4 linked regions of the Homo sapiens genome follow. The protein of the gene in region 1 purifies or fractionates together with the protein of each later gene. This does not show direct contact. Each region holds a gene or a part of one and is shown in the gene's direction. Other genes may lie near its edges.

The links.
Region 2: the proteins of CALR3 (region 1) and CLN5 purify together in Homo sapiens (affinity purification with mass spectrometry; 2 studies listed by BioGRID and IntAct, with this or other methods). This does not show direct contact.
Region 3: the proteins of CALR3 (region 1) and ITGA8 purify together in Homo sapiens (affinity purification with mass spectrometry; 2 studies listed by BioGRID and IntAct, with this or other methods). This does not show direct contact.
Region 4: the proteins of CALR3 (region 1) and TMEM132A purify together in Homo sapiens (affinity purification with mass spectrometry; 3 studies listed by BioGRID and IntAct, with this or other methods). This does not show direct contact.

What each region holds. Positions count from the first base shown.
Region 1 is NC_000019.10:16,486,150-16,493,175, reverse strand, and holds part of CALR3 (calreticulin-3 precursor), read left to right. Parts: intron 1-2,605; coding exon 2,606-2,809; intron 2,810-7,026. UniProt on the Homo sapiens protein: During spermatogenesis, may act as a lectin-independent chaperone for specific client proteins such as ADAM3. Required for sperm fertility. CALR3 capacity for calcium-binding may be absent or much lower than that of CALR.
Region 2 is NC_000013.11:76,995,055-77,002,080, forward strand, and holds part of CLN5 (bis(monoacylglycero)phosphate synthase CLN5), read left to right. Parts: intron 1-8; coding exon 9-174; intron 175-847; coding exon 848-1,073; intron 1,074-2,988; coding exon of another isoform or gene 2,989-3,017; exon of another isoform or gene 3,018-3,031; intron 3,032-5,403; coding exon 5,404-5,915; 3' UTR 5,916-7,026. UniProt on the Homo sapiens protein: Exhibits palmitoyl protein thioesterase (S-depalmitoylation) activity in vitro and most likely plays a role in protein S-depalmitoylation.
Region 3 is NC_000010.11:15,639,919-15,646,944, reverse strand, and holds part of ITGA8 (integrin alpha-8 isoform 1 preproprotein), read left to right. Parts: coding exon 1-99; intron 100-2,723; coding exon 2,724-2,915; intron 2,916-7,026. UniProt on the Homo sapiens protein: Integrin alpha-8/beta-1 functions in the genesis of kidney and probably of other organs by regulating the recruitment of mesenchymal cells into epithelial structures.
Region 4 is NC_000011.10:60,927,443-60,934,468, forward strand, and holds part of TMEM132A (transmembrane protein 132A isoform b precursor), read left to right. Parts: intron 1-198; coding exon 199-417; intron 418-1,186; coding exon 1,187-1,518; intron 1,519-3,067; coding exon 3,068-3,217; intron 3,218-4,243; coding exon of another isoform or gene 4,244-4,246; coding exon 4,247-4,442; intron 4,443-4,541; coding exon 4,542-4,685; intron 4,686-6,099; coding exon 6,100-6,302; intron 6,303-7,026. UniProt on the Homo sapiens protein: May play a role in embryonic and postnatal development of the brain. Increased resistance to cell death induced by serum starvation in cultured cells. Regulates cAMP-induced GFAP gene expression via STAT3 phosphorylation.

The sequences.
Region 1 (7,026 bases):
TGGTTTGTCCTAGTCATTTGCCAAACAAGAACAATGAGGAAGAAGGTTTATCTATGATTTAAGAAGCAGAGGTTACACCTGCATGCTGCATGACTCAGATCACACAACTTGCTCAAGGTTTTTATTTATTTTATGTATTTATTTGAGAGAGAGTTTCACCCTTGTTACCCAGGCTGGAGTGCAATGGCGTGATCTCTGCTCACCACAACCTCCGCCTCCCAGGTTCAAATGATTCTCCTGCTTCCAGCCTCCCAAGTAGCTAAGATTACAGGCATGTGCCACCACACCTGGCTAATTTTTTTTTTTTTTTTTTTGAGACGGAGTCTCGCTCTGTAGCCCAGGATGGAGTGCAGTGGCGCGATCTCGGCTCACTGCAAGCTCTGCCTCCTGGGTTCACGCCATTCTTCTGCCGAGTAGCCGGAACTACAGGCGCCTGCCACCACGCCCGGCTAATTTTTTGTATTTTTTTTTTTTTAGTAGAGACAGGGTTTCACGTGTTAGCCAGGATGATCTCGATCTCCTGACCTCGTGATCCTCCCGCCTCGGCCTCCCAAAGTGCTGGGATTACAGGCATGAGCCACCGCGCCCGGCCTAATTTTGTATTTTTAGTAGAGACAGGGTTTCTCCATGTTGGTCAGGCTGGTCTCCAACTCCCAACCTCAGGTGATCCGCCCGCCTCGGCCTCCCAAAGTGTTGGAATTACAGGCGTGAGCCACTGCGTCTGGCTTATTTATTTTTTTAAACGGAGTTTCGCCCTGCCACCCAGGCTGGGGTGCAATGGCTCCTCCATCTCCCAGGTTCAAACAGTTCAGCTGCCTGAGCTTCCCGAGTAGCTGGGACCACAGGCACGCGCCACTACGCTCGGCTAATTTTGTATTTTTAGTAGAAATGGAGTTTCCCCACGTTGGCCAGGCTGGTCTCGAACTTCTGACTTCAAGTGATCCACCCGGCTCAGCCTCCCAAAGTGTTGAGATTACAGATGTGAGCCACCATGCCTGGCCTCTCAAGGCTTTAAATTGTATTTGCTTTCACATATGTGAAAGTTTAGGCCAGGCACAGTGGTTCACACCTGTAATCTTAGCACTCTGGGAGGCCAAGGTGAGTGGATCACTTGAGGCCAGGAGTTCAAGACCAGCCTGGGCAACGTGGTGAAACCCCATCTCTACTAAAAATATGAAAATTAGCCAGGCATGGTGTCGCACGCCTGTAGTCGCAGCTACTCAGGAGGCTGAGGCAGGAGAATCGCTTGAACCTGGGAGGCGGAGGTTGCAGTGAGCAGAGATTCAGTCTGGGCAATAGAGCGAGCCTCTGTCTCAAAAGAAAAAAGAAAAGAAAGAAAGAAAGTTTAGTGTCCATTAAGTTTCACTGGAACACAGCCACATCCATTCTTTTTTTTTTGGAGACGGAGTCTCACTCTGTCACCCAGGCTGGAGTGCAGCGGTGCAATCTCGGCTCACTGCAACCTCCGCCTCCTGGGTTTAAGCGATTCTTCTGCCTCACTCTCCTGAGTAGCTGGGACTACAGGCACATGCCACCACACCCCGCTAATTTTTGTATTTTTAGTAGAGATAGGGTTTCACCATGTTGGCCAGGCTGGTCTCAAACTCCTGACCCCGTGATCCGCCTGCCTCAGCCTCCCAAAGTGCTGGGATTACAGGCGTGAGCCAGCATGCCTGGCAGTCCATTCATTTATATATTGTCTATGGCTGCCTTTTATGCTGAAAAGGCAGAGTAGAATGTTTAGGAAAGGGACCAGTCGGGCACGGTGGCTCACGCCTGTAATCCCAGCACTTTGGGAGGCCGAGGCAGGCGGATCATGAGGTCAGGGGATCGAGAACATCCTGGCTAACATGGTGAAACCCTGTCTCTACTAAAAATACAAAAAATTAGCTGGGTGTTGTGGCCAGCGCCTGTAGTCCCAGCTACTCGGGAGGCTGAGGCAGGAGAATGGCGTGAACCCAGGAGGTGGAGCTTGCAGTGGGCAGAGATCGTGCCACTGCACTCCAGCCTGGGCGACAGAGCGAGACTCCATCTCAAAAAATAATTAATTAACTAATTAAGAACAGTGGTATATTAAGAACAAAAACTTCCAGGTGTGTGAAATAAAAGTTGTATGGGCCAGGCACGCTGGCTCACACCTGTAATTCCAGCACTTTGGGAGGCTGAGACGGGCAGTCACCTGAGGTCAGGAGTTCAAGACCAGCCTGACCAACATGGAGAAACCCTATCTCTACTAGAAATACAAAAATTAGCCTGGCGTGGTGGCTAATTGTAGTTGTAATCCCAACTACTCAGGAGGCTGAGGCAGGAGAATCACTTGAACCCGGGAGGTGGAGGTTGCAGTGAGCCGAGATCACGCCATTGCACTCCAGCCTGGGCGACAGAGTGAGACTCCATGTCAAAAAAAAAAAATTATATAGAAGCAGAGTGCCTGCTAGTGGTCTACCCATTATGCATTATTGTATAATGCTCTGTTGGCACTGTAGATCACTGTAAATGGTTAGGACATTTATGTTTGGGAGTAAGGGAAGGACATCGATTTAACTTCCTGCGTTACTTAGCGCAGCGTCATTCCTGATCCTTCATGAGTATATTTTGTTCAAAGGTCTGCAAACCACTCAGAATGGCCGATTCTATGCCATCTCTGCACGCTTCAAACCGTTCAGCAATAAAGGGAAAACTCTGGTTATTCAGTACACAGTAAAACATGAGCAGAAGATGGACTGTGGAGGGGGCTACATTAAGGTCTTTCCTGCAGACATTGACCAGAAGAACCTGAATGGAAAATCGCAGTACTATATTATGTTTGGTGAGTTTACGTGGTGCAACACAACCACTTCTAGTGACTTTGAAAACCCTCCCACTTCACAGGATCTTTAGACTAAGACTTTGCTAATGTAGTGAAGGTAGTAGTATTGAGTATATCGGATCCAAGGTTTGTAGTAGTATTGAGTGTATCGGATCCAAGCACTATTAAGCCTAATTAATATAAAAAGGCAACTGTACCAGTCTGTTGTGTTCCTGAAGAAGTTATTTATTCACCATTAATGTTGCCCTCATGCAGGGTAAGGATACCTTATCTGAAATGTTTGGGACCAGAGTGTTTTGGATTTTGGAAATTTTTTTTGGATTTTGGATTATTTGCATTATCCTTACTGGTTGAACAACGCTAATCTGAAAAATCTGAAATCCACAATGCTCTGATGAGCATTTCCTTTGAGCATCATGTTGATTCTAAAAGTTTTGGGTTTTGGAACACTTCAGATTTGCGATTTTTTGATTTGGGATGCTCAACCTGTGTAGTTTTTTTGTTTGTTTGTTTTTGTTTTTGTTTTTGTTTTTGTTTTTGTTTTTGTTTCGAGCCCGAGTTTTCACTCTTGTGAACCAGGCTGGAGTGCAATGGCAATGGCTTGATCTCGCCTCACTGCAATCTCCGCCTCCTGGGTTCAAGTGATTCTCCTATCTCAGCCTCTTGAGTAGCTGGGATTACAGGCATGTGCCACCATACCTGGCTAATTTTTTTGTATTTTAGTAGAGATGGGTTTTTTTTTTTTTTGAGACAGAGTTTCGCTCTTGTTGCCCAGGCTGGAGTGGAATGGCATGATCTCGGCTCACTGCAACCTCCTCCTCCCAGGTTCAAGGGATTCACCTGCTTCAGCCTCCCAAGTAGCTGGGATTACCGGCATGCACCACCATGCCCAGCTAATTTTTGTATTTTTAGTAGAGACGGGGTTTCTCCATGTTGGTCAGGCTGGTCTTGAACTCCCGATCTCAGGTGATCCGCCCACCTCAGCCTCCCAAAGTGCTGGGATTACAGGCGTGAGCCACTGCACCCGGCCAAGATGGGGTTTCACCATGGTGGTCAGGCTGGTCTCGAACTCCTGGCAGGTATCGAACTCCTGACCTCAGGTGATCCACCCACCTTGGCCTTCCAAAGTGCTGGGATTACAGGCGTGAGCCACCACGCCTGGCCTCAACCTGTGTTTTGAATCCTTCAGTACTCAGTAAACCTTGGCCGTGGGCCAAATTGGCCCACTGCCTGTGTTTATATAACCTGTGAACTAAAAATGTTTTTTACGTTTTTAACTGGTTGGAAAAAATCAATACAAGATGATATTTTGTGATACATGAAAATTATATGAAATTTAGATTTCAGTGTGCATAAATGAAGTCTTACTGGAATGCAGCCTCACTCTGTTCATTTATATGTTGTCTGTGGCTGCTCGCCAGTACCAGTGGCAGAGTTAAGTTGTCATGACAGAGATCATTAGGCTTACAAAGCCAAAAATATTTTACCATCTGGCCTTTATAGAAAAAGCCTGCAAACCTCTAGAAAATATTAAATGTCTCCTGACAACAGGGGTACTTGATTAAAATTTGTGCTAGAACTGGGAAGGGACCACACTGGGCCACAGGAAATAGACCTAAGTATAGTGTAACTTAAAACTTTAATAATAAATGTACCTCAGGCCGGGTGTCGCGGCTCACACCTGTAATCTCAGCATTTTGGGAGGCCAAGGTGGGCAGATCACTGGAGTTCAGGAGTTCAAGACCAGCCTGGCTAACATGGTAAAACCCTATCTCTACTAAAAATACAAAAAAAATTAGCCGGGCATAGTGGCACATGCCTGTAGTCCCAGGTACTCAGGAGGCTGAGGCAGGAGAATTGCTTGAACCTGGGAGGTGGAGGTTGCAGTGAGCCGAGATCTCACCACTGCACTCCAGCCTGGGTAACAGAACGAGACTCCATCTCCAAAAAAAGAATGAATGTACTTCCAAAATATTCATCCTCAGCTGGGCACAGTGGCTTATGCCTGTAATCCCAGCACTTTTGGGAGGCCAGGCAGGAGGATTACTTGAGTCCAGGAGTTCGAGACCAGCTTGGCCAACATAGTGAGACCCTGTCACTACAAAAAATAAAAATTAGGGCTCTGTGCGGTGGCTCACGCCTGTTATCCCAGCACTCTGGGAGCCAGAGGCGGGCGCATCACCTTAGGTCGGGAGTTCGAGACCAGCTTGACCAACATGGAGAAACCCCGTTTCTATTAAAAATACAAAATTAGAGCCGGGCGCGGTGGCTCACACCTGTAATCCCAGCACTTTGGGAGGCCGAGGTGGGCAGATCACGAGGTCAGGAGATTGAGACCATCTTGGCTAACACAGTGAAACCCCGTCTCTACTAAAAATACAAAAAATTAGCCAGGTGTGGTGGTGGGCACCTGTAGTCCCATCTACTCGGGAGGCTGAGGCAGGAGAATGGCCTGAACCTGGGAGGCGGAGCTTGCAGTGAGCTGAGATCACGCCACTGCACTCCAGCCTGGGCAACAGAGTGAGACTCCGTCTCAAAAAAAAAAAAAAAAATTGAAAATTAGCTGGGCGTGGTGGCGCATGCCTGTAATAATCCCAGCTACTCAGGAGGCTGAGGCAGGAGAATCACCTGAACCTGGGAGGCAGAGGTTATGGTTAGCCGAGATTGCACCATTGCACTCCAGCCTGGGCAATGAGAGCAAAAATCCGTCTCAAATAAATAAATAAATAAATGATACAAAATACAAAATAAAAATAAAAATAGAACTAAAAAACACCCAGATATCTGAAACATCAAGGGAGGATCACTTGAGCCCCGGAGTTTGAGACCAGCTTGGGCAATATAGCAAGACCCCATCTCTACAAAATGTTTTTTTTTTTTTTTTTGTGGAGACACAGCTTCGCTCGTCGCCCAGGCTGGAGTGCAACGGCACGATCCCGGCTCACTGCAACCTCTGCCTCCCAGGTTCAAGCGATTCTCCTACCTCAGCCTCCCAAGTAGCTGGGGTTACAGGTGCCCACCACCATGCCCAGCTAATTTTTTTGTATTTTTGTAGAGACGGGGTTTCACCATGTTGGACAGGCTGGTCTCGACCTACTGACCTCAGGTGATCCACCCACTTTGGCCTCCCAAAGTGCTGGAATTACAGGCGTGAGCCACCACGCCTGGCCCCATCTCTACAACAATTTTAAAAATTAACCCAGTGAGGTGGCGCACCCCTGTGGTTCTAGCTACTCAGGAGGCTGAAGCAGGGGAATCCCCCGAGCCGAGGAGTTTGAGGATGCAGTAAGCTATGATCACACAACTGCACTCCAGCCTGGATGACAGAATAAGACCCTGTCCGAAATAAATAAATAAATAAATAAAGACCCCTATATAGCATGTGTCTACTACATCTGAATTGCCAAGCAGCATAATTTGGGGTCAAAAAAAGATTAAAATAAATTTTTCTTAGTATTTCAGTTTTTAATTCAACAGTTCCATTTTACTCAAACCCACTCTGTTACTATTGGGACACTTTGTTGCAATGAGTCAGCGCCAGCCATTAGTGTGAGGGGAGCTTGCTGAGGGTGAGGGGTTAAGGAGGAGGACAAGGGAAGCACAGTTATTGTCAGTCTTGACATTTGCATGAATTCCTATGCATAAGTTATGCATAAAACCTCAGACAGGCAACACAGAGCCCATCTGTCTACATTTCCTCATGAACATCCATTACATGTGTAAATACCTTTTTTTTTTTTTTTTTTTGAGATAGAATCTTGCTCTGTCACCCAGGCTGGAGTGCAATGGTGCAATCTCGGCTCATTGCAACCTCCGCCTCCCAGGTTCAAGCCATTCTCCTGCCTCAGCCTCCCCAATAGCTGGGATTACAGGCGTGTGCCACCATGGCTGGCTAATTTTTGTATTTTTAGTAGAGGTGGGGTTTCACCATGTTAGTCAGGCTGGTCTCGAACTCCTGACCTCGTGATTCACCCGCCTCAGCCCCCCAAAGTTCTGGGATTACAGCCGTGAGCCACCATGCCCAGCCCACACTTTTTTTTTTTTTTTAATTGAGACGGAGTCTCGCTTGGTCACCCAGGCTGGAGTACAGTGGCCCGATCTCAGCTCACTGCAACCTCCACTTCCTGGGTTCAAGTGATCCCCTCACCTCAGCCTCACAGGTCCCTGGGACTACAGGGACACGCCACCACTCCCAGCTAATTTTTGTATTTTTAGTA
Region 2 (7,026 bases), on another chromosome or scaffold:
TTTATTAGGCGCTTTGACTTCCGTCCAAAACCTGATCCTTATTGTCAAGCTAAGTATACTTTCTGTCCAACTGGCTCACCTATCCCAGTTATGGAGGGTGATGATGACATTGAAGTTTTTCGATTACAAGCCCCAGTATGGGAATTTAAATATGGAGACCTCCTGGGACACTTGGTAAGGATGCATCTTGGTCTTATAACTTTGGTTAATTCAATGATTTGGTTATTAAGTTGATTTTTAAGGAGTAATCACTATTTAGATGGCTGACTTTAGATCATGTTGGTGTTTGTCTTAGTACATTTAAAATGAGTAGTCAAAAATAGTTACTATCAGATTTTGTAATCTTGACAACAACAAATGTAATCACCATTATCCATTGTAATATTATGAATCTGAAACCAGCTCCTGTACCTAGCTCCTGGAAGGTGAGAAGAGGCCCAGAAGTGGCAGGGCAGGCAGGTAACACCTCTTGATTTCCATACTCTGTTGTAGTCACTTTTCCAGGTTAACCCATCACCATGTGAGGTCTGTAGAGCTGCTTCCAGAGACTGGCATGGGGGCTCCTCACACTTATTCTAAGCTCTAAGGAAATTATCAGCTTGTCCACATAACATGCAGGCCTCCTATTTGAGATGAGCCAAATAGGGGTGTAGTGGCCAAAGCTGGGGTGGATGAGGGCCTGGAGTTTGGGGCCACAGAGTGGATATGACAGTAGCAGCATGGAAGAACAGCTGAACAGTTGTTCTACTTGATATGCATTTGTGATGTGCCACATTTTCTCCTATCAGGTTACCTGGACCCATGGTTGTGTCACAGTTGCTTTTATACATGTACTGTCTTTACACAGAAAATTATGCATGATGCCATTGGATTCAGAAGTACATTAACTGGCAAGAACTACACAATGGAATGGTATGAACTTTTCCAACTTGGCAACTGTACATTTCCCCATCTCCGACCTGAAATGGATGCCCCTTTCTGGTGTAATCAAGGCGCTGCCTGCTTTTTTGAGGGAATTGATGATGTTCACTGGAAGGAAAATGGGACATTAGTTCAAGTAGCAACTATATCAGGTAAGTTGTGAAAATATAGCAATATTTGATCATTGCATCAAAAACCAAATGAAAGAAATTGTTATACTTCCATTGAAACATTTCAGTAATGTTTTACTTAGAGGTCATTTGTAAAATGTACTTTTGGAACCATTAAACTTTGGGAATTTTTTTCATCTCTTATTTGTATTTTTTATTTATTTTATTTGAATAGGTTTGTGGGGAACTGGTTATGTTAAGTTACATGAATAAGTTCTTTAGTGGTGATTTCTGAGATTTTTGCGCACCCATCACCCGAGCAGTGTACACTGTACCCAATGTATAGTCTTTTATCCCTCACCCCTCTCCGACCCTTTTCCCCGACTTCCCAAAGTTAATCATTCTTATGCCTTTGCATCCTCATAGCTTAGCTCCCACTTACAAGTGAGAATACACAATGTTTGGTTTTCTATTCCTGAAGAGTTACTTCACTTGGATGGAATTGGAGACCATTATTCCAGGTTGCTGCAAATGCCATTATTTCATTCCTTTTTATGGCTGAGTAGTATTATTCCTTGGTATATATACACCACATTTTCTTTATCCACTCATTGATTGATGGGCATTTGAGCTGGTTCCATATTTTTGCAGTTGCAAATTGTGCTGCTATAAACATGCATGGGAAAGTATTTTTTGCGTATAATGAGTTCTCTTCCTTTGGGTAGATACCCAGTACTGGGATTGCTGGATCAAATGGCAGTTCTACTTTTAGTTCTTTAAGGAATCTCCACACTGTTTTCCATAGTGGTTGTACTAATTTACATTCCTAGCAGCAGAGAAGAAGTGTTCCCTTTCCCCCACATCCCGCCAATATCTATTTTTTTTTATTTTTTGATTATGGCCATTCTTGCAGGAGTGAGGCGGTATTACATTGTGGTTTTGATTTGCATTTCCCTGATCATTGCATTTCCCTGAGCATTTTCATGTTTCTTGGCCATTTGTATATCTTCTGAGAATTGTCTATTTGTGTCCTTAGCCACCCCCACCCCGCCTTTTTGTTGTTGTTGTTTGTTTGTTTGAGGTGGAGTTTTATTCTTGTCGCTCAGGCTGGAGTGCAATGACACAATCTCAGCTTGCTGCAACCTCCACCTCTTGGGTTCAAGCGATTCTCCAGCCTTAGCGTCCCAAGTAGCTGGGATTACAGGCGCCCGCCACCATGCCAAGCTAATTTTTGTATTTTTAGTAGAGATGGGGTTTCGCCATGTTGGCCAGCTGGTCTCAAACTCCTGACCTCAGGTCATCTGCCCACCTTGGCCTCCCAAAGTGCTGGGATTAAAGGTGTGAGCCACCACTCCCGGCCGTTAACCCACTTTTTGATGGGATTGTTTTTTTCTTGCTGATTTGAGTTCCTTGTAGATTCTGGATATTAGTCCTTTGTCAGATGTATAGATTGCAAAGATTTTCTCCCACTCTGTGGGTTGTCTATTTACTCTGCTGATTGTTCCTTTGGCTGTGCAGAAGCTTTTTAGTTTAATTAAGTCTCATCTATTTATATTTGTTTTTGTTGCATTTGCTTTTGGTGGAACCACTAAACTCTGACCCAAACTATTACTCATGCAGAACTTCACCTGTTGGTGATGAGTAGCTTATCTCTGATCTTTGAATGTTTCCCTAAAAATGCTCTTTTCCCATCATAAAAATGAATAAAATGATAAAACATTTTGTACAATTAAATTGGTCTTTCTAAACGAAATAGTAAGAGAAATCCATAAAATGCCTGATTAAAGGATATGTTAACTATATCTGAAAAAAATTTTAGTGATGATATTTTTATGTTGAAAAATAATAGCTACTAATATAGACTGGTTCTGGCACTGTTCTGAGTACTGTACATACATCACATCATTCATCATCACAACTTCTGGAGGTAGTAACTATTATTTTGCCTATTTTACAGATGGAGAAACTGAGGCACAGAGAGGTTAAAGTTACACAGCTTAGTAAGTGGGACTCCAACCCTGGCAGTTACGCCCCATTGCCCATTCTCCTAACTACTTTGATACATTGCCTCCCAAAATGTATATGATCTTATATTTGAGACCCTCTTGAGCAGTTTAAATATTTTATCTTTGAGATTTTTTTCTTCTTTTGGATGTATTGGAAAGTTGCTGAAAGTTGGAATTGTGTTGCAAGTGCTGCATTGTTGGTTAGTAATGAAAAGAGTTCAGCAATCCTTTCATTGGTAACTCCTTATGTGACTTGGGTCACATTTTATATCTTATTGGCCCGTTGCCTCATGTGCAAAATGGAGACAATATACCATAGCATTTGAGAAGTAAGGAGCTTGTCCATATGATTTATGAAGCATTACATTATAAATTGCTGTTCCCCAGAACAGTAGAAACATCTGAAATGAAAGCACTGTTGTGACAATAATTATTCAGTGAACCCCAGGACTTGAGGAAGTAATCATGCTTCCTATTTGTATAGCTCTTTACAAATGATTTGGAGGTATGTTAACTCACGGTTCAGTGGAGAGGATAAGATACTCATTCTCTGCAAATAAGGAATTGAGGCTCAGCCAGGTAACATGACTTACTTGCCTCTCAAGGTCAAAGAGCTGGATGTAGCAGAATCAGGAATAAAACTGAGGTCTTTTAAATGTAACAAGGATCTGTTAGCCGAATGCACCATGTTGTTTTCTAATATTTCCTGCTACTTTCTAATCAATGTGCCTTAAACCATACCAACAATACAAAAGTCCATCATTAGCGGTTCTTTCTTTCATTCCAGGCCAGTTCACACCTTTCCCCATTTCCACCTACATCGTTATCTGAAAATCCTTCCTTCTGACATAAAGTCAATGATCATATGAATAAGTGATCACTATTTTTTGTAAAATAGTTCAAAATATGCCAGTACTTAAATCTTTTAAGTCATTTATTTGCCTTGTGAATAATCCTGTGATTGACAAAATAGTGTTTTGAAGCATTCTTGTCTCATAAGGATAGTGGTGGCATTTGAAAGTTGAAGAATGCTAAGAACAGTATCCCCAGTTCTAATACAACAGGCTTTATTCTGTTCTACAATTTTAATTCCATAAAATTGATAAAGGCAGTCACTCTATTCATTTTACAGAACATGAAGTATTTATTTTATGGACTCAAGTTGGAGTAACCAAAGAGGTTTGCACACAGTGACAGGATGCAGTGTTTGGGGCCCAGTTCTATTAGGCATTATAAATGCCCAAGATGAGAGTTGTAACCATGCAGAGTAGTGTTTTCTGAATATTTGGAAAGATTCTTCTGGTCTAGTACAAGATGGTAGAAGAGAGGGTTAGCCATCCTGGAGTATGAACTCGGCCTAAAACATTTCCAGTTTAGTTGATTTGTTGGAAGGACTTAACGTGGCAGGTGGAGAGGTCATCAGCAGCATCCCAGCAACTCCAAGTACAGGGAAGAAAGAAACGTACCAAACACACAAGGTGGATGGGGTATGGTGCTTGTTCTCATAACAGTAATAGCCAGCCTTCTAGAGCAGTGGCTCCTCAGGCAGCCATTCATACTTTATGTGTAGCATGCTTTGCAACAGTGAAGCTCCACATTTCCCACACCTCCATTTTCCTTACACTGTCTTTGCCCATTCTGCTTTTCCTCTTTCGCAATTCTTTTTGTGCTTTCCTTTTCTCTTTTGCCTCTGAATCCAAGATTTGGTGAGTTGGGTAGAGAAAGAGAGCTTCTGCATTTGTATAATTTCGCTTTGACTATAGCTTAAATGATTATAGAATTAGTATGTAAGATGACTTCTCCTTATACACCTATTATATCTAATGTTTATAATTCAGAAATATCTTGTGCCTTGAAGAATGGAATAAAATTGGCTGAGCTTGGATTCCTGTTGTGAAATGCAGGTGTGGAAATTCAAAACCATTGTTTACTCAGGCATCCAGTCTTAATCAAGTTAGAACATTTTACTTAAAATTAATATGATTAGGCCAGCCATGGTAGCTCAAACCTATAATCCCAGTGCTTTAGAATGCTGAAGCAGGAGGATCACTTGAGGTTGGGAATTTGAGACCAGCCTGGGCAATACAGCAAGACCCCGTGTTGCCCAGGCTGGTCTCAAATTAAAAAAAAGAAAAATTAAAAAATTAGTTGGGTTTGGTGGCCAGCGCCTGTAGTCCCAGCTACTCAGGAGGCCGAGGTGGGAGGATCACTTAAGCCCAGGAGGTCAAGGCTGCAGTGAGCTGTGATGTTACCACCGCACTCTAGCCTCGGCAACAGAGGGAGACCTGTCTTAAAAAAAAAAAAAAAAAAAATTAACATGATTAGCTTTGTTCACTAGGTGACTTTGTTTTGTTTTTTTAAACTAGGAAACATGTTCAACCAAATGGCAAAGTGGGTGAAACAGGACAATGAAACAGGAATTTATTATGAGACATGGAATGTAAAAGCCAGCCCAGAAAAGGGGGCAGAGACATGGTTTGATTCCTACGACTGTTCCAAATTTGTGTTAAGGACCTTTAACAAGTTGGCTGAATTTGGAGCAGAGTTCAAGAACATAGAAACCAACTATACAAGAATATTTCTTTACAGTGGAGAACCTACTTATCTGGGAAATGAAACATCTGTTTTTGGGCCAACAGGAAACAAGACTCTTGGTTTAGCCATAAAAAGATTTTATTACCCCTTCAAACCACATTTGCCAACTAAAGAATTTCTGTTGAGTCTCTTGCAAATTTTTGATGCAGTGATTGTGCACAAACAGTTCTATTTGTTTTATAATTTTGAATATTGGTTTTTACCTATGAAATTCCCTTTTATTAAAATAACATATGAAGAAATCCCTTTACCTATCAGAAACAAAACACTCTCTGGTTTATAAAACACCTTAATTCTACTGCTCTTTTTTCTCCAATCACCAGCATCTGTTTTTCAGGGGGTGATTTTACTTTTGTGAATTCCTTAGCCTTTCTTCCTTGGTGCATAAAGTTAAAATGCACATCAGCAGAATTGCTGCATATTAACATCTCAGGACTCTTCTCTTGTAAAGAAGCTGAAATTCGTACTATATTGGCCAAAGTGAGCGAGTTAGGTGATCTTGGTTTCAATTTCCGAGCCTTTGTTAATATGGAGAATTATGGTTCATATCAGTTATGTAGGACCTTTGGACCCAGGGTCCTACAGATAGATATGGTGTGCCCAGATTTTAAAAATACCTTCAAAAATAAAAAATACATTCAGTGACATTTTCATGGTGGGAGCTCTTCTTTCTGATATGGCAGTTACACTTTTTCACTTAAGTGCTTTAGTTTAGACTAACTTTACAACTTCTATAACTTTTGGAACCAAGTTTAGTATAGTCTGATTACATTCCATTCACCTAACTTTAGACATTCGTTTAGACACCATAACTGGAGTGATTGTGCTTCTAGATGTGGCAAATCCAGTGTTAACACATATTTCTGGCTGAGATTTTGGAACTAGCTAGTAACTGGCTTGTGTTCTTTAAGCATACTAACATCACTAAATCTTAGGATTTAGGATTGCTGTAAAGATGTAAGTTGTGTATGTTTGGCAGGTCACATTGAATGGCAGTGATAATGATTAATCAAAGAACAAATGTCATCCTTGATCTTGCCTAATGTAGTTTATGTGCCAAACTTTCCAGGGTTTTGTAGTCACCTAGATTTTAAGCTGATAGCATAGTGCTTCAGCGGTTCTTCTAACCGGGGTATGCAGGAACATGGCTGCAGACACGTTTGGGTAAACAGGCACCTTCTGACTTCTTCATTGTTTCCTGTAGTTCTCCCTCTTCCCACAAAGCTGTCAGCGCAGTGGAAGAGGTTGCACTTCTCCGAGAGAGGACAGGTTTCTGTTAAGATCACCAAGTAGCTGTGCTTTAATTAGAGCCAGACAAGCTTTCAAGGTCCTTTAAGTATTTGATGATCAACTGAACACGTTTCTATTCAAGGAGAAAACACCATTCAGTAAGA
Region 3 (7,026 bases), on another chromosome or scaffold:
TCTTCAGAGACCCCCAGATCCTCACTGGCACCGAGACGTTTGGGAGATTCGGTAGTGCTATGGCACACTTAGGAGACCTGAACCAAGATGGATACAATGGTAATTTAAACCAAAGCGTGGAAGTCATTTATGTGTCGTCACCACTGCATAAAGGAGACCATGCCTGTTTTAAAGTATTCAGTATGGTGTGTGTGGGTGCAGTTATTATTACTGATTTTTAATAAACTATCACAAATCTCAAGGCAGCTTTACGTTTATACATTTTGACTAATATAAATATTACATGGAAATTTCCCTTCTCACCTTTCTGAAAATTTTTATTTCAAATCTCACAAGATTACAATGCAACACAGAGAAAAATCTGTAACATAATTTGTTTCAATCCTAAATTTAGTATAATTGATCTCCTTGTAGAAGACACATTCGGTTATCAGAAACATCAGAAAAACCTCATTAAGCAATGTCAAAACCATACTACCTCAGAGCTCAGTCTTCAGAGCTCCAGGTAATGGTTTGAGGGTGTTACTACATTTTGAAAACCTCTAAATGAATTTTAAGAGACATTGGAAGGCCACAGGCACTCCAGGTTACAATAAAAATAAGTACATTTAGGTTTCTGCAAACTTCAAAATAACATCTCAAATGTTCAACTTTAAACTTCTCTACTTATAAGTGCTGTTTACTTGCAGAAATATTTCTTATTCAGTTTTAAGAATTAAAACTTTAAAGCCAAAGTTAATACAAAAATCGTCATTGCTCTGACGTCCAAGCAATTTTCTCACATTTGATGTTGGCTATCCTGTAATAGCTCTCAGTAGAGGCAGGAATTATTTTTAAAATTGATGTTTGGATTTGGTGACTTAAAGGTAACTAGGAAACCTTCTATATGTCAAGACAAATAAATACATGTTGATATATTAGCAAGTATCCTGACTTCTGATCAGCCTACATGGGTTATGTACAGGTTATACTGAATTTTAATTGGCACGTAGGCTTCACCTTAGTTTCAATATTTGCAACAAAGTAGTGTTAAACTCGTAGGTTAGGCTTGTAGTTCTTTAGGTTAGAATTTATGAAACCCCTCCAAGTACCCTCTCCTCAGAAAAACACACACCTTCACACAAAAGTTTGCATACATTTTCAGGACCTGAAAATGTATGCATTTTCTTAAATGCACTTCAGGTTCTTTAGTTAAGAACCGAGCATAGTGAATTTCTTGATTGAACTCAAGGAAGTAACAGGAACTTGCTGTAACAAAGTAGCCTTGGAAGTATTCACATCAGATTAGTATTCATTAGTATATTTGGCCAATGTTTCTGTTCTCTTACACATTCTTTGAAAAAAAGTTCTCAGCAACATATGGTTAGTAAATTTTAAAGTATCATAAAACAAAGTACATGTAAAAAGCTTATGGTTCCAGGGAAATTTTTTAAAAGACAAGCTTACCTTTAAGTGACTTGCTACTCTGTAAAGCTGCTCTATTCCTGATCACTCAAGTAAAATAAATAGTGCTAAATTATCTATGGAGCTGTCGTTTAAAATCATATTTTCTTCTATTTGTCTTTTCTCTCAAACCTTTAATAGTATTTTTAAAAGATAAAAGAAGCATTCTAAATGACATAAAGGGAGGTCCTAGCTTCTCTGAGCTTTGGTGTCCTTGAGTATACAAAGTAGGTAAAATCATGTGAAATTCACTGAGAGTAAACAAGGGGATGGGAGTCAAGGCAGTGACTTAGAGAAAGTTAAGAAAGTGTCGAAAGTGTTCCTTTTCGCCTGACACAAGACAATATCTTTATTTTCTACAAAAATCTGAGTTTTTAGATCATCTTTTTTTTTTTTTTTTTTTTTTTTTGAGACAGAGTCTGTCACCCAGGCTAGAGTGCAGTGGCACGATCTCAACTCACTGCTCACCACAACCTCCACCTCCCAGGTTCAAGCAATTCTCTGCCTCAGCCTCCCGAGTAGCTGGGATTACAGGCGCCCGCCACTACGCCAGGCTAATTTTTTGTATTTTTAGTAGAGATGGGGTTTTACTGTGTTAGCCAGGATGGTCTCGATCTCCTGACCTCATGATCCGCCCGCCTCGGCCTCCCAAAGTGCTGGGATTACAGGTGTGAGCCACCGCGCCAGGCCCTGGAGGCTCTTAATAAATATTTGTTGGATGGATAAAAGGCAACAAATAATTTGTCATTGCAGCAGTACTACAGAATTTTCATGGAAAACATTATAAGCCCTTTAGAGTTTCGATACTGCTTTTTGAGTATACTAAACTATTTCTGAACCATTCTTCTGTACTTAAAAAAGAAACGTCTCTATGGCCAAGCACAGTGGCTCATGCCTTTAATCCCAACAGTGTGGGAGGCTGAGGTGGGGTGATCACTTGAGGCCAGGAATTCCAGACCATCCTGGGCAACAAAGCAAGGACCCATTGCTCAAAAAAAAAAAAAAATTCTATATATATATATATATATATATATATATATATATATATATATATATATATATATATATTAGCCTGACATGGTGGTATGCACCTGTAGTCCCAGCTCCTAGAGAAGTTGAGGCAGGAGGATCACTTGAGTCCGGGAGTGTGGGGCTGCGGTGAGCCATGATCCCACCACTGCACTCCAGCTTGGGTGACAGAGTAAGGTCCTGTCTCTAAAATGAACAAATGAAGAATTAAATACATATACACATAAAACATGTTTTATGTCTGTTTTTAGACATTGCCATCGGAGTGCCTTTTGCAGGCAAGGATCAAAGAGGCAAAGTGCTCATTTATAATGGGAACAAAGATGGCTTAAACACCAAGCCTTCCCAAGTTCTGCAAGGAGTGTGGGCCTCACATGCTGTCCCTTCCGGATTTGGCTTTACTTTAAGAGGAGATTCAGACATAGACAAGAATGATTACCCAGGTAAGGTTTTCTTTCTTTTCCCACGTGAGAGTCTACGTCCTGAAATAGAGTCCATTTTCTGAAAAATGCATCATGCAAAGGCAGTTTTCTTCTACAGATGAGGCTGAAGCTTAAGCATGCCACAGGCTTTTTTAATGTACGATTCCAGAGCGACTTTCATGAGAACTTGAAGAAAGACAAACACACGCTTCCTTCTCCTGTCAAGAGACAATGATAGAAAGGCAGAATGGCTTAACAATCTGCATTGTACATAAAACTTGTCAACTTCACAACCCAAGTTTTCATTTGAAACTCCTCAATACCGCGGCTTGCACTGACATAGACAGCTTGCATCCTTTCTGGCGCAAATTATTTTAACCCTTTTGAGCTCATAGCTCCTATTATAGCATGAACCTCAACGTGTCTGTCATGAAGCTCATGTTTTTAAAGCATAAATATTTTCCAGCTTGGCCCATCATGGTGGCTCATGCCTGTAATCTCATCAGTATTTAGGAGGCCGAGGTGGGTGGATCAGTTGAGGTCAGGAGTTCGAGACCAGCCTGGCCAACATGGTAAAACCCCGTCTCTACTAATAATACAAAAATTAGCTGGGCATGGTGATGCATGCCTGTAGTCCCAGTTACTCTAGAGGCTGAGGCACAAGAATCACCTGAACCCGGGAGGCGGAGGCTGCACTGAGCCAAGATCGAGCCACTGAGCTCTAACCTGGGCGACAGAGTGAGACTGTCTCAAAAAATATATGTATCTCTTCCAGCCATATTTTGTGGTTTTCCAAAGATAGACTGAACATTTTAAAGTGGAGAAAAAAAGAACTGGTTCATGATAGGAACCATAACTATTCTTGATTTACCTAATTCACATTGAAGGCACATGGAAAGCCATGAGGCACAGGTAATTTATGTATTGTGCATGCTATATGAAGACATTGATTTGTCTTAAAAGATTATTTCACTGTCCAGGTTTTTTAGCAGAGAACATCAGACTTCTTGGTTTTAGGGTTTGATTTTCACTTTTATGTTTAAGATGGTTTCAATAAATACTTAGAAGTCATTAATAGTTAAATGACAGTTTCAACTACTTATAAAAACCTTGTCTCTTTCCACTAGCCCCTCCCCTGATTGGGAATTTTCCATATGTAGAGCTATTTTTTGGTTTGGGGCAGCATCCAGTAAGCTGACTGCCTAAATATACATCATTAATTTCAGGCCTTTGGCTTTCTTCTCTCCTCTGGGATTAGACAAAAAGGATACCGCAACATATTCTTATAAATTTGCCATAAACCTTTTATGACACTAATGGAGACGTCATAGTGGGCTCAAAGTGGATTTGGTATTATATCGTATACTAATGCTTCCTACCTGTGGCAATTTCAAGAACATCTAGTTAAATTTATTTTCTTAGGTTACATTATGCTAATCAATGGTGGTTAGTTGTTATTACTGGGGAGAGGTTTGTATACATAATATATCCAAATTTAAAATAATTCAAAAATCTAGGTCCCTTATGTAATTCCTACCCCAAAAATGTCAGGGTGATTAATGAAATTCAACTCCTGGGTTGCATTTTAGGTAAACAATTAGAAAGTTACTGCTATTTATTATGGTAGTCATAGGTCTCCTTCCCACCCTTAGTACCAGGAAAATTGACAGAAAGGCTGTGCCTTTGATGAGGCAAAGGAAATAGAGGATGTATCCATCACATAGCCAGTCCTTTGACTTCCTTCCAAGGCTAAACACGTCCCAAATGAGAGCCAGGAAGGACAGAGGCATGAGTCAACTTTTCTCCCCAGGAATACTCCCTTCAGGGAGAAAAAATTTAAAAGCAGCAGGAAGGGAAAAGGAAGCTAAAGTCTGTGCAATGTTAGTAATTGATTACCTCTTTTTTTCTTTTCCTTTTTTTTTCTGAGACGGAGTCTTACTCTGCCCTCAGGCTGGAGTGCAGTGGCACGATCTCAGCCCACTGCAACTTCCACCTCCTGGGTTCAAGCGGTCCTCCTGCCTCAGCCTCCCAAGTAGCTGGGACTACAGGCGTGTGCCACCACACTCAGCTCATTTTTGTAGTTTTAGTAGAGATGGGGTTTTACCATGTTGGCCAAGATGGTCTCAATCTCTTGACCTCGTGATCTGCCCACCTCAGCCTCCCAAAGTGGTGGGATTACAGGTGTGAGCCACCACATCAGCCGATTACCTCTTAATTATGTCTTTTTCTTCCCTTAATCAGAAATATTCACTTGAGGCCATGTGCTAGTCAACAACTTTGCTGAGTCTGATGCAAATTATAATAATCAGACATGTCAGTGCTGTGCGTCTTGTCTCTGAAGTAAATGTTCTTTACTAAGGCAGGCCCGTCAATGCTGCTTGGTTGAATTTATCCCTCAAGAGTCTTGAGGCTTTCAGAGTTCATCCATGCATCTTGGTAGACCTGGGTTCTGGCGCCAATTCTGTCTCTCAAATAGGAATATGGATATCTTGTGATTCATGATTCTATAACATTTTTCCCTGATCCTCATCCTCTAGCAAAAAGAATGCCATTCAAAGAAGCCTTTTTAACTTCATAGCAAGATCCCAGGACCTACAGAGAAGAAACTGCCTTAGAGGCAGGCGACTAGATTCTCTTATTACAGTTGATTGAAAGCTGCAGGCCAAATTCAGGAATCAGACATGTAACTTTCTTCATTTTTCTAGAAATGAATTCCATTTAGCTTTCAAAGCCTCCATTTCCACCATGGTAGAAAATGATGATCTTGCAATCACTTCTATGTTTAGATTTAGTCTTATTTAGGTAAGTATTTATTCAGATTCAAGACCCCTCAGCCAGCCGTGGTAGCATGCACCTGTAGTCCCAGCTACGCAGGCAGCTGAGGCAGGAGAACTGCTTGAACCCAGGAGGCAGAGGTTGCAGTGAGCCGATATCGCGCCACTGCACTCCAGCCTGGGCAACAGGGCGAGACTCCATCTCAGAAAAAAGACTCTTTTTCTCCACCCTGTGTAGCTACCCTCCCAAGGAATGAAATAGAAAGGGGTTTACCTGTTGTCCAGCGACTGGGAAGAGATATCTGGCTCACACCCATCATCTGCTATTATTGGCTTCAGACTAAAGGGTAGCTCAGTCCCTTGTGGCCTTTGGGGCATTGCTCAAGCTTCTGTGGCTCGTTCCATTGTCTGTGTAGTGACCTCTGCTCAAAATTTCCCTGTGTCCTGGGCCCTCTTCGTCCTCTGTTAGCCTCTTTCAGTCCCCTTTTAGCAAATGCTTCTGAGCCACTGTTAGGACTCAGACACGCACAGGCTGGGTATTCAGGTTTCTGTGATTGCCCTCAGGCTTATCTACCTAGATTTTCCTTAGCTGTTGCCAGTTTCCACCCAGGCATCTCATTGCTCCAGCCCCTGATTGAGCTGCAGTCTTGTGATGTTTTGCCTGGGAAGTAACAAAAGCCCTCTTTCCCCTAAAGGTAGTTGGATGGCATGCTTTCTAAACCCTATAGTTCAGTCAGTAAATGCTACGTTCTAGGCCTCCATGACTTGTTTTGTGATTTTTCCAAACCAGTGCTTTTTGGAACTTAAAAAGATAAACAATTTCTTTCACTCTGGGGTCCTGCTTTTTCAAATCAAAAGCACTTTGCCTTTCAAATTATGAAGTAAATACACCTGAGAGCGATAACATCAGCATACCCCAAAATGACCCTGGGTGGCACACACACCCCAATGTGGCTGGGAAATCTGAGCTACGGAATCTGGGAGTGGCCAGCCCAGAGATCCATTCCTTGTCTATGAGGAAGACCTGACACCCAGGTCGGTCCCGTGGAACACGGGCCGTAGAGGGGATTGAGGCCCTTTGTTTTTGGATTAAATGAAGGTTGCCAGGTGGAGGTTGTCAGTGGGAGAGTACTAAGTGAAGATGCTTTATAAACTGCATGCCTTTTGCAAGCGGTTGCAGTTCTCTTGCCCAGCCCTCTACCCCCGGACTCTCTGCCCTGTACGTAGGTCCTCAATGAAACCTCATGTCTCACTTGCTGGCTGTTTTTCAGCCTCTTGAACATGCTGCCATCCCCAATGGAGTTGATAAGGGTTTGCACAACACAGATTACTGTGCCTTCTGAGCTTCACAATCTATT
Region 4 (7,026 bases), on another chromosome or scaffold:
TCAGGCTAACAGGACTCAGGGCCTGAGGTCTGCTGGGTACAAATTGGGAGCCTTCCCCAGCCCCGGCTGTGCTCCCCATATTCCAGAGGGGGAAACTGAGGCCCATAAAGGTTCTCTTCTGCCAAGCTGGGATCCCATCTTCCTAGATCTTCCCCTCCCAAGCTCCTCTTTTGTTAAGCCCTCTCATTCTCCCTCCAGGTGGTCCCCCCTCGAGTCACTGAGCCCCACCAACGGCCAGTCCCATGGGACGTGCGGGCCGTTTCAGTGGAAGCGGCTGTGACTCCAGCAGAGCCCTACGCCCGGGTTCTCTTCCACCTCAAAGGGCAGGATTGGCCACCAGGGTCTGGCAGCCTGCCCTGTGCCCGGCTCCATGCCACACACCCTGCCGGCACTGCTCACCAAGCCTGCCGCTTCCAGGTGAGTAGACAGGCCCCACCTAGGCTGGTCCTGCTGCAGCTGCATCAGCCAGGTGGTGGGCCCGCGGCAGAGAGGAAACCCCCACTCCTGGGAAGCGCGGGGGTTGTGGACCACCCGACTCCATTTCTGCCCCCACTAGCTTTCAGTGCTGTGAAAAGGTTATTTAGGGCCCCAGAGGGAGTTCAGTCCTTGGTGTGTGACTTTGAGTAAGTAACTTAATCTCTCTGAGATTCAGTTTCCTCATCTGAAGAATGGGGTGTTAAGAATTCCTACCCCATCTGGAGTTGGAGTAAGGAACAAGTGAGATGAATGTAAGGATAGCTTACGGCAGAGTAATCAATCAGCCAGTGTGTTTGCATTATTAGTAGTGTTACTTTTATAATTGCTATTTCCACTATTTTGGAGTCTAGCACAGGAATCCATGGGAGAGGCGTCTCTTGAGCTTTAGGATTCTGAGAAGAAGACTGGATTCTAGGCAGGATAGTCCTGGGCTTGGTTAGGGTAAGGCCCTGGGATTGGCTTACTTTGTAATGAGACCTATCCCAAGGGCTGAAGAGTGGTCTGCGGACATGCTCTGAAACCTAGACCTGGTTTGAAGCCCCAGCCAGGTTGCTGGTTTGCTGTGTCACTCAGGCTGTGTCTCCGGCCCATGCTGGGCCTCCCTTTCATGAGCCCCTCCAGCTCTGGGTTTCCTGCCATGGGTGCTGAGAATCCTGTTCCTCGCCCTGCACCCACCCCCATGCCAATTACTGCTGTCGTGTCTTCACAGCCATCCCTGGGCGCCTGCGTGGTGGAGCTGGAGCTTCCCTCGCACTGGTTCTCACAGGCCTCCACCACACGGGCCGAGCTGGCCTACACGCTTGAGCCTGCAGCTGAGGGCCCTGGGGGCTGTGGCTCCGGCGAGGAGAACGACCCTGGGGAGCAGGCCCTCCCAGTGGGGGGTGTGGAGCTGCGCCCAGCAGACCCCCCGCAGTACCAGGAGGTACCTCTGGACGAGGCTGTGACTCTGCGGGTGCCTGACATGCCAGTGCGGCCCGGCCAGCTCTTTAGTGCTACCCTCCTGCTTCGGCACAACTTCACAGCCAGCCTCCTGACCCTGCGGTGAGCACCAGGCCACGGGGATGGGTGAGGGTGGGAACCTCTGTGGGAAGACTAGGGACAGGTACCTGCTCCTCCTGGGGTCCTTGCTGGAATCCTTGACCTCTGCAAAACATGTGTCCACCAAACTAAACTCCTTCCAGGTAAAAAGCCATGACTGTGCTGGTAGGAGCCCACCATGGGCACAGCCCTGGAATTAGAGTCAGAAGTAGGAAGCTGCCCCTTCCCCTGGCACCTCCCTGAGATTCCTTTGTCCAATGGGGCTAACGGTCCACCTTCAGGGCAGCTGCAAGTCTCCAGGGAGGGGAACCCGCAAAGGGCTTAGAGACTGCAGTACCTAAGTGTGAGCTCTTGCTCCAGTGCTCCAGAGAGGGATATTTGCCCCAATCACGTTCACCTACATGCTGTCCCTCCTTGCCACCCTCGCCGTAGGAGTCTAGCCTTTGGACAGAGCTTGCTCTTCCCCATAGGAAGGCCCTGATTCTTTGTGTCCTTTTCCGTAATAAGTTCCCCCAAAGCAGCCCCCACCCACCTACCCAGTTCACCCGGCAAGGGCTTGCAGAGTATGACTTGCTTCTGGAGTCCAGCGCAGGAATCCATGGGAGAGGCATCTCTTAGGCTTTAAGATTCTGAGAAGCCTGAGTTCTAGGCAGGATAGTCCTGGGCTTGGTTAGGGTGAGGCACTGGGACTTGCTCACTTTGTAATGATATCTTTCCTGAGGATCGAAGAGCGGTCTGTGGACATGCTTTGAAACCTAGACCTAGTTTCAAGCCCTGCCTGGGTTTGTGCATGTCCCGTCTCTGTGTCTCCCCATCTCCTACGCCCTCCTATGCTCACTCTTATTAAGCAGATCTTTCCTAGACACTTACAGCCTGCCAAGCCCTGTGTCTTCACTCTGCAGATCCAAACACGAGCAAGGGCCAGTCCCTATCTGGCAGAAAGGGGCCCCAGTGGTAGGGAAGGGAGCTGGATGGGCATGAATTGGATTAGAAGGCATGTGGGTGTGTAAGCACTGAGGGAGGTTCAAAGTGCGGTGGGAGCTCAGGTGAGTGGGTGCAGTAAGGGGGAAATTCATCCCACCACTGGAAAAGCTTTCTAAAGGAAATGGTCTGTGAGTTGTTGGAGGCTTAAAGCATCAGCAGGTAAAGTAAGAAAGGGCAGAGCAGGCTGAAGGCACAGACTGGGCAAAGGCTTGGAGTCACGAATGGGTGCCGTGTGTGTGGGAAACTTGTGTGTAGCTGAAGCAGAGAGTGCATGGAGAGATGTCACAACCGAAGTTAAGGCTGGACCAGACCCTGGAGGGCCCCCAAATGCCCGGCTAAGCTTTGACCTTATGGGCAGTGGGGAGGCGTAAGTGGTCTTTGGGTGGGGGAGAGCTGTAAGGTGTGAGCTGCACTGAGGCGGGGTCCTTCTGGGTTGGAGGATGGTGAAGAGGAGATTCAGACTGGAGCCAGGGAGGTCAGATGGCTTTGGCTCCTTGTCTTTCCCCTTCAATCCAGCCCACAGTTCAGCATGCACCTTGCCAAACTGAGCCTATACTCTCTTCCCCAGGATCAAGGTGAAGAAGGGGCTGCATGTGACAGCCGCCCGCCCAGCCCAGCCCACACTCTGGACTGCCAAGCTGGACCGCTTCAAGGGCTCCAGGCACCACACCACCCTCATCACCTGCCACCGTGCTGGGCTCACAGAGCCAGATTCCAGGTGGGCAGTTTCCCTCCACCCAGGGGGCAAAGGAGGGAGGGCTGGTTATAGAGTGCAGTTGAGCAGATTTGGAGGCTGCCATGCTGCCTCTAGATCCCCAGGTGAGCAGACCCAAGGACAGATTTTTTCAAGGAAGCAGCACAAAGCAGGCATAATCCATTCCTTCATTCATTCATTCGGCCACTATCTTCCCAGCCCCAGCCATGTGCCAGGCATAGCAAGTGTCTGTGAGTCTTATTCTAAGAGATGCCAACCAATCCTGTGCCCCAGGTAGAGCCCTCATAGCCACTACTCCATCCCCCTGCTTCCACCAAATGATCCTTTCTCTGGGCCGTTCACATTCCCCCAAAAAGCCCAGCTGCAGTTCTGCGGTTGTGAACTCTTCTTATTCATGCCCTGAGCCTGGGTCAAGGCCATGGACTCAGTAGCCCCAGTTCGAATTCTGGTTCTGATGCTTTTGGGATGGGCAAAACCTTGGGCAAGCCAGTTAACATTCCCCTACCCAAGCCTCAGTTTCTTCACTTGTGAAATAGGAATAATAATGCATCCCTTAGCATTTTTGAAAATAAAATACAGTGCTACATATCAGGCACCCAGGACGGTTCCCAGCACATAGGTTTTTGTTTGATCAAAGGAAGCTTATCATTCAGAGGGTCAAGTGTCTGGTCCTGGGACCTGGAAGTGAATCTCCCGCATGCCACCTCAGTGGCTGTGGAAAGCGGAAGTCTGGGGGAAGCGGGCCCGGGCAGGCAGGGGAGTGAGCCACCTTGCCAGGTGGGAGGTGGTTAAATGGCTTCATGGATCTTAGAGAGGCCAAGAGTGGGTCAGAGTTTGGGGTCTAGAGCGAGGATGCTTGGGTTTAGATCCCAGCCCCGCTACTTTTTGCTGTGTGGTCTTAAGTGAGCTATGTAACCTCTGTGCCTCAGTTTCCTCCTGTGTAAAATGGGGATAATCATGAATGCAGGAAGTGCTGAGGCCATGCCTGGCAGCTAGCAAGCATTTGGCTTCTCTGTCTCCTTTGGCCAGCAGTCCCCTTGAACTGTCTGAGTTCCTATGGGTGGACTTTGTGGTGGAGAATAGCACTGGTGGGGGCGTAGCGGTCACTCGCCCCGTCACGTGGCAGCTGGAGTACCCAGGCCAGGCCCCTGAAGCAGAGAAGGACAAAATGGTGTGGGAAATCCTGGTGTCTGAGCGGGACATCAGAGCCCTTATCCCACTGGCCAAGGTAAGGAGACCTCCATCTCTGCCTGGGAAGGCTGGAGGCCAAGTCCCAGGAGCCCCATGAGCTGAGGGGCCTGGGGCTGAGCCCCTCCTCCACCCCCAGGCTGAGGAGCTGGTGAATACAGCACCACTGACTGGAGTGCCCCAGCATGTCCCCGTGCGCCTTGTCACTGTGGACGGCGGGGGGGCCTTGGTGGAGGTGACAGAGCATGTCGGCTGCGAGTCTGCCAACACACAGGTCCTGCAGGTGAGTGGCAGGTGCCCAGCTCATGTGAGTCTGCATTTGTGTGGGCACAGTTACGCACACACACCTTTCCTCCTTCCTCATGTGGGTCCCCAAGAGAACAGCTTCTTCTTGAGACGAGAAACCTCATGGGAGGAACCACAGCTTCAACTTCTTTTGTTCCAGCCACCTCTCTCCCGAGTCAAGTAACCCTAACAGCCCCCCGACCTTAGACACTTTCACGCTCATTATTGCACTGGCAAGTGCGCTGGCCTGAGAGAGTCGAGAGCACATACTCTGGGATCAGAAAGTTTTAGTTTGAAACACATCTTTGTTGTCAACCAGCTTTGTGATCATGGGCTGGTCTCTTAACCTCTCTGAGCCTCGTTACCTAAACTTTAAAATGAGAACATATCTTCGGGTTGTTGTAAGAATTAAAAGCACTTTAAGACAGTATTTAGCAGATAGCAGGGGCTGAAACAATGGCAGTTATTGCTGTTATAATATGATGTAATAATTATACAATGGTAAAAATTATTATTATTATTATTACCGGTGATTGTGAAGTGAAATAAAAGGGAGGGTGGTAGAGCAACTTCCTCTATCTTGAAGTTCTAAGAGGGGAAGCATGGAGTCTGCATGTATGCAAATCCCAGCCACCTGAAGGGGGAAGGTGCCTTTCCCCACTTGTGGTCCTTTGCTCAAATGTGTGTGGTTCCTGCTGGAGGGCCTTGGTGGGAGATCTGCTTTGTCCCACCTCTGCCTACCTGGCTGTAGCTGGTTGCCAGGTGGCTCCAAGAGCAATGTCAAAGGCCAGCATGAATAAGGAGCCAAAGTTTTGGGTTCACACCCCTGCTCTGCCAGGAGGAAGACTGGTATGCAATGGCCAGTTCCCCTGACTGAGCCCCAGGGAACCTCAAGGAATGGCCCCTACAGTAAAATCTTAAACAAAGAACAGGGGCTTAACCAACAATCCTGCTGCAACATGCATTCCAGTGACACACAGAGCTGAACTCAGTGGGAGCCCGTCCTACGGCCTGAGGTCAGGGCTGCTCTCTTCTGGCCCATGCCTTTTTTTTTTTTTTAATCTATTTATTTTGAAACAGAGTCTCACTCTGTCCCCAGGCTGGAGTGCAATGGTACAGTCCGGCTCACTGCAGTCTCAGCTACCCAGGCTCAAGGGATCCTCCCACCTCAGCCTCCCCAGTAGCTAGGACTACAGGCATGTGCCACCACACCCGGCTGATTTATTGTATTTTTTGTAGAGAGGGAGTTTTGCCATGTTGCCCAGGCTGGTCTCAAACTCCTGGACTCAAGCGATCCACCCACCTCGGCCTCTCAGAGTGCTGGGACTACAGGCATGAGCCACCCACCCGGCCCAGCCTCACACCTGTCTTTAGTGGCTTAGCCCGCCCACCTGCCCTCTGCCCTTCCATAGGTGTCTGAGGCCTGTGATGCCGTGTTCGTGGCTGGCAAGGAGAGCCGGGGCGCCCGGGGGGTGCGAGTGGACTTCTGGTGGCGCCGGCTCCGCGCCTCGCTGCGGCTGACCGTGTGGGCCCCCCTGCTACCGCTGCGTATCGAGCTCACCGACACCACCCTCGAGCAGGTCCGCGGCTGGAGGGTACCTGGCCCTGCTGAAGGGTGAGTGGAGGCCTGAGGAAGCTGGCAGGCCTTGGCGAGTCACACTGGGACGGAGAGGGCGCAGGGGACACAGCCATGGGCCCAAGTCGGGGTCAGAAAAACTGCCCTGTTGCTTGCAGTTCCTTCTGCCCACCTCCACCCTGGGCCGCCCAGCCAATGATCGCTTTCTGTGAAATTGCTGACTTCCGCATCCCTCTCCTCCTTCCCTGCCTCACTTCTCCCGTAGCACCCTCCACTTCCTAATCTACGTCAGTACTGGTTAATGTTGCCTGTCCATCCTTTCCACGCTCCTCCCCCGAGAATGTCAGCCCCTTGAAGCTGCGGTCTGTCTATGCTGGTCGTACCCTCAGAGCCTAAGATGACACAGAGCTCAGGAAATGAACACCCTCGGAGGGGGCTCCCCAAAACCCAGGGAGAGGTGGCCCACGCCTCTGGAATCTAGCTTCCAGGCCCTTCAGAGAGTGAGCGCCCCCAGGGTCCCCGTAAGAGAGCGTCTCCCCTGCGGTCCACTTGGGAGCAAGAGCGGTGATCGAGGCACAGCGCCAGTCGGGAGTGGGCTGGGGCGGCTCGCCTGCAGGTGGAAGGGCCTGACCCCAAGAGGGGCGGATGTCTGCGTTTGAGAAACAGGAGCTGCTGGTGATTAGGAGCCGCCGGGGACGAGCTGCGGGTCTCCAGCAGCTGGGCCCTGGGCAGGCTGGGGCCGCTCAGCGCTGACGGCCAGTCC